Regions from separate parts of the Homo sapiens genome. Here region 1 is linked to region 2. The links come from fine-mapping of genetic effects on gene expression. A gene starts in region 2. The other region holds a variant in brackets. All regions are shown on one strand. Distances are between the middles of the regions. Region 1 has its middle 17 kb from the start of ATXN1L. Region 2 holds the start of ZNF821 (zinc finger protein 821).

Region 1 (5,376 bases), 55 kb after region 2:
AACTCAGAACACATAATTTGGTGCAGACGGAAAAATGTATAGAAATAAGTTTTGCATTGGAGGCAAAGCAACTTGGATAAAGGTCTCAAACTAGAGAATTGAACTTTATAAAAAAGCTAATGCCACCAGGCATGGTGGCTCACGCCTGTAATCCCAGCACTTTAGGAGGCTGAGGTGGGAGGATCACTTGAGGTCAGGAGTTCAAGACCAGCCTGGCCAACATGATGAAACCCCATCTCTATTAAAAATACAAAAAATTGGGCCGGGCGCAGTGGCTCACACCTGTAATCCCAGCACTTTGGGAGGCCGAGGCAGGTGGATCACGAGGTGAGGAGATCGAGACCATCCTGGCGAACATGGTGAAACCCCATCTCTACTAAAAATACAAAAAAATTAGCCAGGCGTGGTGGCGGGTGCCTGTAGTCTCAGCTACTCGGGAGGCTGAGGCAGGAGAATGGCATGAACCTGGGAGGCGGAGCTTGCAGTGAGGGGAGATCGTGCCACTGCACTCCAGCCTGGGCAACAGAGCGAGACTCCGGCTCAAAAATAAATAAATACGTAAATAAATAAAATAAAAATACAAAAAATTAGCTGGACGTGGTGGCAGGCGCCTGTAATCCCAGCTACTCAGGAGGCTGAGGCAGGAGAATCGCTTGAACCCGGGAGGTGCAGGTTGCAGTGAGCCGAGATTGTGCCATTGCACTCCAGCCTGGGCAACAGAGTGAGACTCTGTCTCAAAAAAAAAAAAAAAAAAAAAAAAAAAAGCTAAAGCCAAGAAAACTGAGCTGATTTCTTTTTTAAGAAAGTACACATTGGCCGGGTGCAGTGGCTCACGCCTGTAATCCCAGCACTTTGGGAGGCTGAGGCAGGTGGATCACGAGGTCAAGAGATAGAGACCATCCTGGCCAACATGGTGAAACCCCGTCTCTACTAAAACTACAAAAATTAGCCAGGCGTGGTGGTGCATGCCTGTAATCCTAGCTACTCAGAAGGCCGAGGCAGGAGAATCGCTTGAACCTGGAAGGTGGAGGTTGCAGTGAGCTGAGATCATACCACTGCACTCCAGCCTGGAGGACAGAGCGAGATTCCATCTCAGGAAAAAAAAAAAAGAAAAAAAAGAAAGTACATATTTGACTAAATGTAACTGGCTTAGTAATATAAAGGAAGCTAATGAAATTTAGAAGTTTCGACTTTTGAACATCTGACATCATGACCACATTTACATAATTCAAAACTGACATTCAATGGAACACAGAGACCTGGCCACAGCAGTTGCTTCAGGCTGGTGGACATTTTTTGTCATTCAGGGTGTCCATTCTGATTGGTTAGTGCCATGTAGTACTGGTTCTTGAATATATTTACTGTCACCCTTGACATAATTCAAATACTTATCACAAAATCAGAACTGTTGATTCAAAGTTTGGATTTTTTTTGAGACAGAGTCTTGCTCTGTAGCCCAGGCTGGAGTGCAGTGGTGCGATCTCAGCTCACTGCTGTATTTTTAGTAGAAACAGGGTCTCGCCATGTTGGCCAGACTGGTCTTGAAATCCTAGCCTTAGGTGATCCACCCACCTCGGCCTCCCAAAGTGCCGAGATTACAGGCGTGAGCCACCACGCCCGGCCTTTTCTTATGTTCACTTTCTTCCTCATATTCTGCTTGGTTTGAAGTTCTCTAACTCTGGAATAGGGCTGTCTTATACATTCACAAGCAAGGCCCCTTTTTGTTGCTAAATTATACATCATCTAAAAAAAATATACAGTAGTCCCTGCTTATCCGTGGGGAACACTACCAAAACCCCCATTGGATGCCTGAAACTGCAGATAATACCAAACCTGAGTAAGTTTCTGTACATGTTTCCCACCCCCAAAATTAAGGCTTTTTCCATCCTCACTAAGCATTTATCACGCTCTACGACCAAAAGTTTTGCAGTTTGTTTGAGCTGCGACAGGCAAACTAGCATGAATTTCTTTTTCCTTCTTCACAATTTCACAAATAGAAGATTTGTTCTTGGCTGAGCATGGTAGCTGACACCTGTAACCCTAGCATTTTGGGAGGCCAGGCAGGTGGATCGCTTGAGCCCAGGAGTTAGAGACCAGCCTGGGCAACATGGTGAAACCTAAACCCTGTCTCTACCAAAAATTAATTTTTAAAATATTAGCCAGCTGTGGTGGCACGTGCCTGTAGTCTCAGCTACTCAGGAGGCTGAGGTGGGAGGATACCTTAAGCCTGGGAGGCAGAGGTTGCAGAAAGCCGAGGTCCTGCCACTGAACTTCAGCCTGGGTGACAGCGAGACCCTGTCTCAAAAAAAAAGAAAAAAAAAAAAAAGATTCATGCTACCCATAGATCTTTGCTCTTTGCAACCTTACCGTATGATTTTTTTTCTATCCTTACACTTTTTTTTTTTTTTTTTTTTTGAGACGGAATTTTGCTCTTGTCCCCCAGGCTGGAGTGCAATGGCATGATCTTGGCTCACTGCAACCTCCACCTCCCGGGTTCAAGTGATTCTCCTGCCTCAGCCTCCCGAGTAGCTGGGATTACAGGCGTGCACCACCATGCCCAGCTAATATTTGTATTTTTAGTAGAGATGAGGTTTCACCATATTGGCCAGGATGGTCTTGATCCCCTGACCTTGTGATCCACCCTCCTTGGCCTCCCAAAGTGCTGGGATTACAGGTGTGAGCCACCATGTCCGGCCCATGGTAAGTACTTTTAAGATGGGAAAATTGACTTAAAGCTGAGGTTTTTATTGTGCACTGAAAGATTTTTTTCTACTTAGTCATGTGGCTTCTAGAGTAGCTCTGGAAGAATTGTAAAGCAGGTAAAATTTGTACTTTTTCTCTGCCCACATACTATTCCTAACAGACCCTTATAAGTGGTTAACAATAGAGTAGAAAACAAAAAAACGAAGGTACCTAAAAGTGTTATATCCAGAAGTGTGTGAAACATTTTTAGTTCTTTTCTCCCCCATCCTCTAATAAAAATACAAAAAAAAAAAAATTAGCTGGGCATGGTGGCGCATGCCTGTAATTCCGGCTACTTGGGAGGCTGAGGCAGGAGAATCGCTTGAACCCAGGAGGCAGAGGTTATGGTGAGCTGAGATCACACCATTGCACTCCAGCCTGGGCAACAAGAGCGGAACTCCTTCTAAAAAAAAAAAAAA[G/AG]AAAAAAGAAAGAAGAGTATGGGTTCAGGAGTGAAACGATACATATTCAAATCCTTGCTCCACCATATATTAACTGTGAGACCTCAGGCCAAGTGTCAACAACTCAGTTTTCTGGGTTGGGGATAATAATATTTCCTAACTCATAAGTTTGTTGAGATGACTCAATTAGCTAATACACATAAGGAACTTAAATGCAATGCCTGGAACATAACAAATGTAATCAAATTTTGCTTTTGCTTTTTTTTCATTGTAATCATTATCATGGGGGTGAATTAAGCTTCCAGAAGATGGTCATGAACTGTCTTAGGACAAGAGAGATTTTCCCCTAATGCATCTCACATCATTCCATGTAGGGAGCTACTTGTTTTAGTGATTGATTAAGCTGTCTCTGGTGACTTCTTTATAAAGGATGGCTTCATACTTGGGTGCCAAACTTCTGCTTAGTGCAGGCATGAAGCAAAAAGTCTGTTCCATCTCCTGTGTTCCCACTGCTCTGCTTTCAGATTGCTGGATGTATCATGTTGGATTCCAGAGAATGGGGCACATTTATCTTTGCTGATGATGGTTTCCTGATAGGGATTCTTTTACTCTTGTTCTCTTCCAAAGAATTATATAGCTTTTTGAAAAATGACACATTGTATACATTTAAACAATACAGAAAGGGACTTTAAAGCAGTAAAAGACATATGAAATGCCACTAGAGATGTGCTCAAGGGCTTAGTCTTTGGACCTCTTCCCAACTCTTGAGCTGACTTCATCCAACCACATGTTTTTCAATACCTTCTTTATGGTGGGGGCTTCTACATGTATAGCATTACCTAAGGCTTCTCAGTTTATATGAGCTCCAGGTTCATATATCCTCCTGCCTTCTTGACATCTTCACTTGAGTGTTTCATAGACATCACCAACTTAACACGTCCCAAAGTGCTCTCACCCCTTCCAAAATATCTACCTATTCTACCGTTAATGGTAATTCTATGCTACGACAAAAATACTCATATCTTCCTTGATTCTTCCCTTTCTCTCAACCCCTACCCATCCAGGCTGGAGTGCAGTGGTGCAATCTTGGCTCACTGCAACCTTTGCCTCCTGGGTTCAAGTGATTCTCGTGCCTCAGCCTCCCAAATAGCAGGAATTACAGGCACACGCCACCTCGCCCAGCTGATTTTTTTATTTTTAGTAAAGACAGGGTTTCACCATGTTGGCCAGGCGGTCTTCAACTCCTGACCTCAAGTGATCCACCTGTCTCGGCCTCCCAAAGTGCTGGGGTTACAGACATGAGCCACTGCACCTGGCCTCCAGTGCCTTTTCATTTCTTTTTTTTTTTCTTTGAGATAGAGTCTCACTCTGTCACCCACACTGGAGTGCAGTGGCTCAATTTCAGCTCACTGCAACCTCTGCCTCCTGGGTTCAAGCAATTCTCCTGCCTCAGCCTCCTGAGTAGCTGGGATTACAGGCGACTGCCACCACACCCAGCTAATTTTTTATATTTTTGGTAGAGATGGGGTTTCACCATGTTGGCCAGGCTGGTCTCGAACTCCTGACCTCAAGTGATCCACCCATCTCCACCTCCCAAAGTGCTGGCATTACAGACGTGAGCCACCACACTTGGCCATATTTCACTTAGAATAATAGGCAAAGTCTTTCCCACAACCCATACCTTCCCTCCCCATCACTCTGACTTCATTCCCCCCAACCTTCCTCCTTGTTTACTCTGCCTTAGCCACACTGGCCACTTTATGCTTCTTCAAATGCCCAAGAACATTCCAACGTCAGGGCCTTTGTATCTCCTTCCGGTATTCTGTGTTCTCTAGATATCTGCCTCGTTCCTCCCTTACTTCCTGGAAGTCTATACTTAAATGTTCTCTTCTCTGTGAGGCCCTCCCTGGCTATCTTCTCTAAAATGTCAACCTCCTCCCTCTTCTCTGCTATTTTTTTTTTCCTCTGTAGCACTTATCTCTAGCTCACATCTTGCATAGTTCACTTAGTGATCGTGTTGATTATTCGTCTCCCCCACTAGAATGTCAGCTCCATGAGGGCAGGGACTTTTGTCACAGTTGCATCCCCAGCCCTGTTCCTGTCTGTTCATTTTGTCAAATGAATGAATAAATCTGGAGTTTACCACTGCTAAAGTTTAATAAACTTTCTTGTAGACCTATCTATTCGTATTTACAGTTAGCTCTTAACTGTTTGTGTGCTAGTGTCTAACCTCATA
Region 2 (5,376 bases):
TGTGAGTAGATTGGGAAAGTAGAAAAAAGTGAAGCTAAAAAAATATATATGGTTAATTAAAAGGTCTTCTAGATGTAGAACAAGTTTAGGTGAAAGCAGAGGAAAAATAAATTAATTCTTCTTTTTTAAAGAGACAAGGGTTTCACTATGTGGCCCAAGCTGGCCTCAAACACTTGGGCTCAAGTCATCATACCATCTCAGCCTCCTGAGTAGCTGGGACTATAGGTGCCAGCCACCATGCCTAACTTAAACTAATTACGTATTTAATAATTTTTTCATTATTTGGTTGTAACCTTGAATCACAACACCTCTGAGAAATTTTTAGAGCACAGGGAAGTCATAAGAATAGCATTATTATCATCTCATTTTATTTGGAAGTCAAGGAGATGGAATAAGCTGCCCAACATTACATAATAATAATGCATCCAAGAAATTTCACTGGAGGCAAACTTTACCTGTTTGCTACTTTTCTGTTGAAAATGTCAACTAAGTCAGCTTTAAAGTGACATAATAAAGCCATACTTGTATCCCTCAGTCCAAACTGATCAAGAATTACTGTTAAATATAAAAGCCAGTGTGTATTCTAGGTTGTATTCTTACACAAAATAGTACAAACACTTGCGGGTTGGATGATAATATTCCATTTTCTGTCTACTTGGAAACTAAGTTTTTAAATGAAATTAAAATGTTTCCTTGACTGAAGTTAAACAACAATAATTGCTATCTAAGTATCCTAATCACAATAAATAAATGAGTGAATGATGAATGAGCTATTTATCACAGAATTGTGAAGGACCAAGATCCCTCAATGTAATCATTCTATTACATTGAACACAAGATGCAGACAATGAGATCATCTCATAAAAGATTTAGGGGAAAGACAATTTGCAAGAATGTTCTATGCAAATACCAGGACTTGTCACTTTATCAGCAAATGACAGCATCCTCGTTAGCCCTGCCTTTGTGCAGCCAGTAATCACGAAAAACATTTGCATGATGCTTTTAGCCATTTGTTTTACTTAACTGGCACAACAACCCTCGGAGAGTAAAGGCCAGGAATTATTGCATCATTATCCATTTGACATCTTAGGAAGCAGAGGCTCAGAACAGGGAAGTGACTTGCCCAAAGTCAACAGGCTGGTGGGTGGCAGAGCTGGGGCTCAAAGCCAGATCTTCTAATACCAGATCTCATCTTCTTTCCTCTGCATTCCCTGCTTCTCCAGGTAAGCGATGCCAGGGCAGGCTCAGGCATTCTAGAAGAGAGGAAGAAAAGAAGGCAACAGGAACTAGGAGAGAGAAGGACGTGGACAGGAGGAGGTGTTTGACTAGAAGTGCGTCCAACCAGGCCGGGCACAGTGGCTTACGCCTGTAATCCCAGCACTTTGAGAGGCCGAGGCGGGAGGATCACCTGAGGTCAGGAGTTCGGGACCAGCCTGGCCAACATGGTGAAACCCCGTCTACTAAAAATACAAAAATTAGCTGGGCGTGGTGGTGCACGCCTGTAGTCCCAGCTACTCGGGAGGCTGAAGCACGAGAATCGCTTGAACCTGGGAGGCGCAGGTTGCAGTGAGCGAAGATCGCGCCATTGCATTGCAGCCTGGGTGACAGAGCGAGACTCTGTCTCAAAAAAAAAAAAAAAAAAAAGGTCCAACGGCTCTCCATTGCCCCCAAACATCCCTCAAGTGACAACAGTGCCACAAGTTCCCCTGCCCCTGGGTCTGCAGCCAATGTTATTTTATCAGTTGAGAATCATGTCAGAAAATTAAATACTCAAAAGAAATCTCAAGATTTCCCAGCTCTGAGGTTCTGACAGCTGAACTTGGCCCCTCCCACCAAGGCCCGTGGTCACATTCAAAGCCTCGGGAGCCGAAGCCACCGCGAAGCGTGGGGGAATGAGGCGAAGAGGGTTTGTGACGGTGGTGGGGATCCGGGCTAAGGAGAGGGGGTGCCTGCGGCGGAGCTGTGGTTGGGGGTTGTGGGTTTTGTGGCTGAACTCGATGGTGGGGTAAGAAACCAGGATCGGGGCTGGGTAGGGTGGCGTTTACACGTCCAGGAAGGTCTGGGGGAGCTGAGCGGCTGAGACAGCCAGAGAAAGACCCGGGAATGGGCGAGGCGGGGGGTTCCGGAGCCCTGGAACGCGGGCGAGCCCCTCTCGGGCGCCCGGGATTGGGCGCTCCCCGGAGCCCCTCCTCTCCAGAGCCCCTCTCCTCAGGCCCCGCCCACAACGCCAGGCGCGCGCCGGGCCGCGGGGAAGGGGACCTGGCCGGCGCGGGGGAGGGGGAGAGGGAGGCTCGTGCACGCGCCTCACTAGCTGCGGGTGCGCGAGCCGCGCGCTCCCGCCGCCCGCGTCGCCATCTTTTTCCCCCTCCGTCTGTCTGTCTGCTGTTGGCTTTGTCCGTCTGCAGCGCCGCCCCTCGGCTCCCCGCCACCGGCTCGGCTCGGCCCGGAGCCCCTTCCGCTCGCCGGGGCCCAGTCCCGGAGCGCCCCGGCCCGGCTGGCTTGGGCTGCGGTCCCGGGTCCATTGTCCGGCGGTCCGTCTGTCCGGAGGCGGGGCCCAGGGACCCAGAGCGCAGCGCAGCGCCGAGGCGCCGGGTAAAAAGACCCCCTGCCCTCCCTCCGGGTCCGGGCTGGGGATGCGGGCTCCTCGCCCCCTCGCGGCCGCCGGCTGTTGGTCCTTTTGTCTGCACTGGGGAGAGGGCCGGGGGCCAGCTCCGGCCTAGGGGGGCAGCCCGGGCTCACCCTCCCCGCTTCCAACCCCAATTCCTCCCCGGCCGCTCCTCCTGCTGCCCCTTGGCGCTCTCGGGCGCGGGGCGCGGGGTGCGGGGCCGGGGGGCTTTTGCGCGGGCCGCGGGCACCCCGCCTCCTCGGGCCCCGGCGGGGACGGCCCCGGCGTCTGACAGCCTTGGGTGGAGCTGGGGGAGGGGAGGATGGGCGTGGGCGTGCAGACCGGGGGGTATCAGTCCCCGCGTCTGGGTCTCGCAGAAAAGCTTCTAAATTTAGATTTCGGAGATTGTGTTGTCTAAGGGTTTGTCTGAGCCGCCTCGGAAGACCTCCGGCTCTTGTCAGGCTCTTGTCTGGTAATTCCTGGGAATTTACCTGGGCTCATGCTTGAAGAAGCAGAGGGACCATCTCGGCTGATTAGACACGCCCCAGACCCAACCCCAGGGGTCAGGTGAACAGCCAGGCGGCTAAGTGACCAGCTTTCTTGTCCTCTCCTTTTTGGCAGATACAGATCACTTGGATTCAGTCGAGTTTGCTTTGCTCCGTGGGAACTGCACCAGAGCTGGAGGTGGGAACGCACTCTCTTTTCATCAAGCTGAGATTTCACTCGTTTTTTTTCTTGCCAAAGTCTGTGGTGTGCCCTAGACGCTGCAACCTAATACCTGTGGGAGAGCAGAGACAGTGTTCAGGGGAGACGTTGCACCTTCCCGAGGACTCTTAACCTTGCTCTGAAGACAGACAGAACTGCTTTCCTTTTAAAATGGAATCCCTTTAGACCTGAATCTCACCGTTTACCTGTCTTCCCAGCCCATGTTCAGGCAGCTATCTATTTACATTTTTGGTTTGGTTTGGTTTCAGGTTTTGGCTTGGAAATTGAGGCAGTGTTAAAAGTAAAACAAAATGAGTGACCTTTAGGGCTGTATGTCTCTGGGTTTTATTAGCTTTAACTGCCTATAAAACAAGTCATCTGGCCTCTGAGATCTTGCTTTGTGGTCAAGAGTGTCCTTTCAGCGCCATTTATTTATTTACTTATTGATTTTCAACAGCCCATGACCCCACAGGCCTGTTTTTGTGGGTGTTTTTGTTATTATTTTCGTTTCGTTGTGTGGGAGGGGACTGTAATTGCTTATTTTTCTCTTGATCACTCAGGTGTGAAGTCCCATTGGGTACCATCTGGTCAGTTCCCCATTTGGCCACTAGGAGGATTATAAGATGCAGCGGGCATTGCTGATTTAAATACGCAGACACTCATCTCTGTCTTTTGACTTGGAGCTTTAATATTGAAATGTTGTCTGGTTCAAATTATTTGGCCTTCCTTCAGAAGGGACTTTATTACCTTTATCTTACAGTTTCAGTTTCTGATCTTGAAGGGAGAAAATATAAAAATTAGTCAAGATTCTGTTTTTTCTTCTATAATAGAGTATATATATATTTAGCCTCAATAGATTATCACATTAGAGGAGTATATTTTATTTTTTTAAATTTTTATTTATCTTTTTTTTTTTTTTTTGAGACGGAGTCTCGTTCTGTCGCCCAGGCTGGAGTGCAGTGGTGCGTTCTTGGCTCACTGCAACCTCCGCCTCCCGGGTTCAAGCAATTCCCTGCCTCAACCTCCTGAGTAGCTGAGATTACAGACATGCATCACCACGCCCAGCTAGTTTTTGTATTTTTAGTACAGACGGGGTTTCACCATGTTGGCCAGGCTGTTCTCAAACTCCCGACCTCAGGTGATCCACCCGCCTCAGCCTCCCAAAGTGCTGGGATTACAGGCGAGAGCCACCGCCCATGGCAGTTTTTTATCTTTTTTTGAGATGGAGTCTCACTCTGTTGCCCAAGCTGCAGTGTAGTGCCTCCATCCCAGCTCACTGCAACCTCCCCTCCCCAGGTTCAAGCGATTCTCATGCCTCAGCTTCCCGAGTAGCTGGAATTTACAGGTGTGCACCACCATGCCCAGCTAATTTTTGTATTTTTATTAGAGGTTTCCCCATATTGGCCAGGCTGGTCTCAAACTCCTGGCCTCAAGTGATCTGCCTGCCTTGGCCTCCCAAAGTGTTGGGATTACAGGCGTGAGCCACGGTGCCTGGCCATATTTTTAAAAATATTAATAGAGCCTGCATTTCATTACCTTTCCACTTGGTGATTCCACACACATATAGGAAATCCAAAGTGTGATATTCATTCACTGCTTCCGTGAATAAAACAACTACTTGATTAGAAAAAAATGACATACACAAAACTTAGAGAACATACACTATCAGCACTCAGTATATTGCCCTCTAAATAGTTTAAATTGATTTTTATTGTATACATTTAGAGTTTTGTTTTGTTTTGTTTTTAATTAAAGGTCTGAAAAAGAACTGTGTTTGATATGCAGATATGCTAGAAGACTGCCTGAAAGCTGCTTCCTTTGCCACTTCCTGTGGAGGCCTGTCTTTGCCATTTGCGGTTTCTTTATTCTTTTGGTAAGGGGAGGCAGGATCTGATTATAGGTTTGAGGTCCTTCTAGCTACATAGAGGAGTTAGTTGGCATAACAGGAGGTGAGTCTTCATTAACTGGAGTACAAAATATAGCTAGCAGTAGTCTCCCATAACTCCTCTTAAGGCAATAAACTATGATTTTATGTTTGCTTATTCAATGTGAGTATAACTCAAGAA

The links.
Region 1: its variant is fine-mapped to the expression of ZNF821 in whole blood (INTERVAL, PIP 0.98).

Annotation. Positions count from the first base shown.
Region 1 is chr16:71,826,460-71,831,835 of GRCh38, reverse strand. No RefSeq gene overlaps it. Among named protein-coding and RNA genes, the nearest start is that of ATXN1L, 17 kb to the left of the region's middle. The variant G/AG (reference allele first, on the strand shown) is at 3,162.
Region 2 is chr16:71,881,124-71,886,499 of GRCh38, reverse strand. It overlaps ZNF821 (zinc finger protein 821), which reads left to right and starts at 2,318. Exons shown (of 8, transcript NM_001201552.2): 1 at 2,318-2,592; 2 at 3,227-3,289. RefSeq lists enhancers at 952-1,452, 3,293-3,492 and silencers at 2,033-2,792, 2,813-2,932.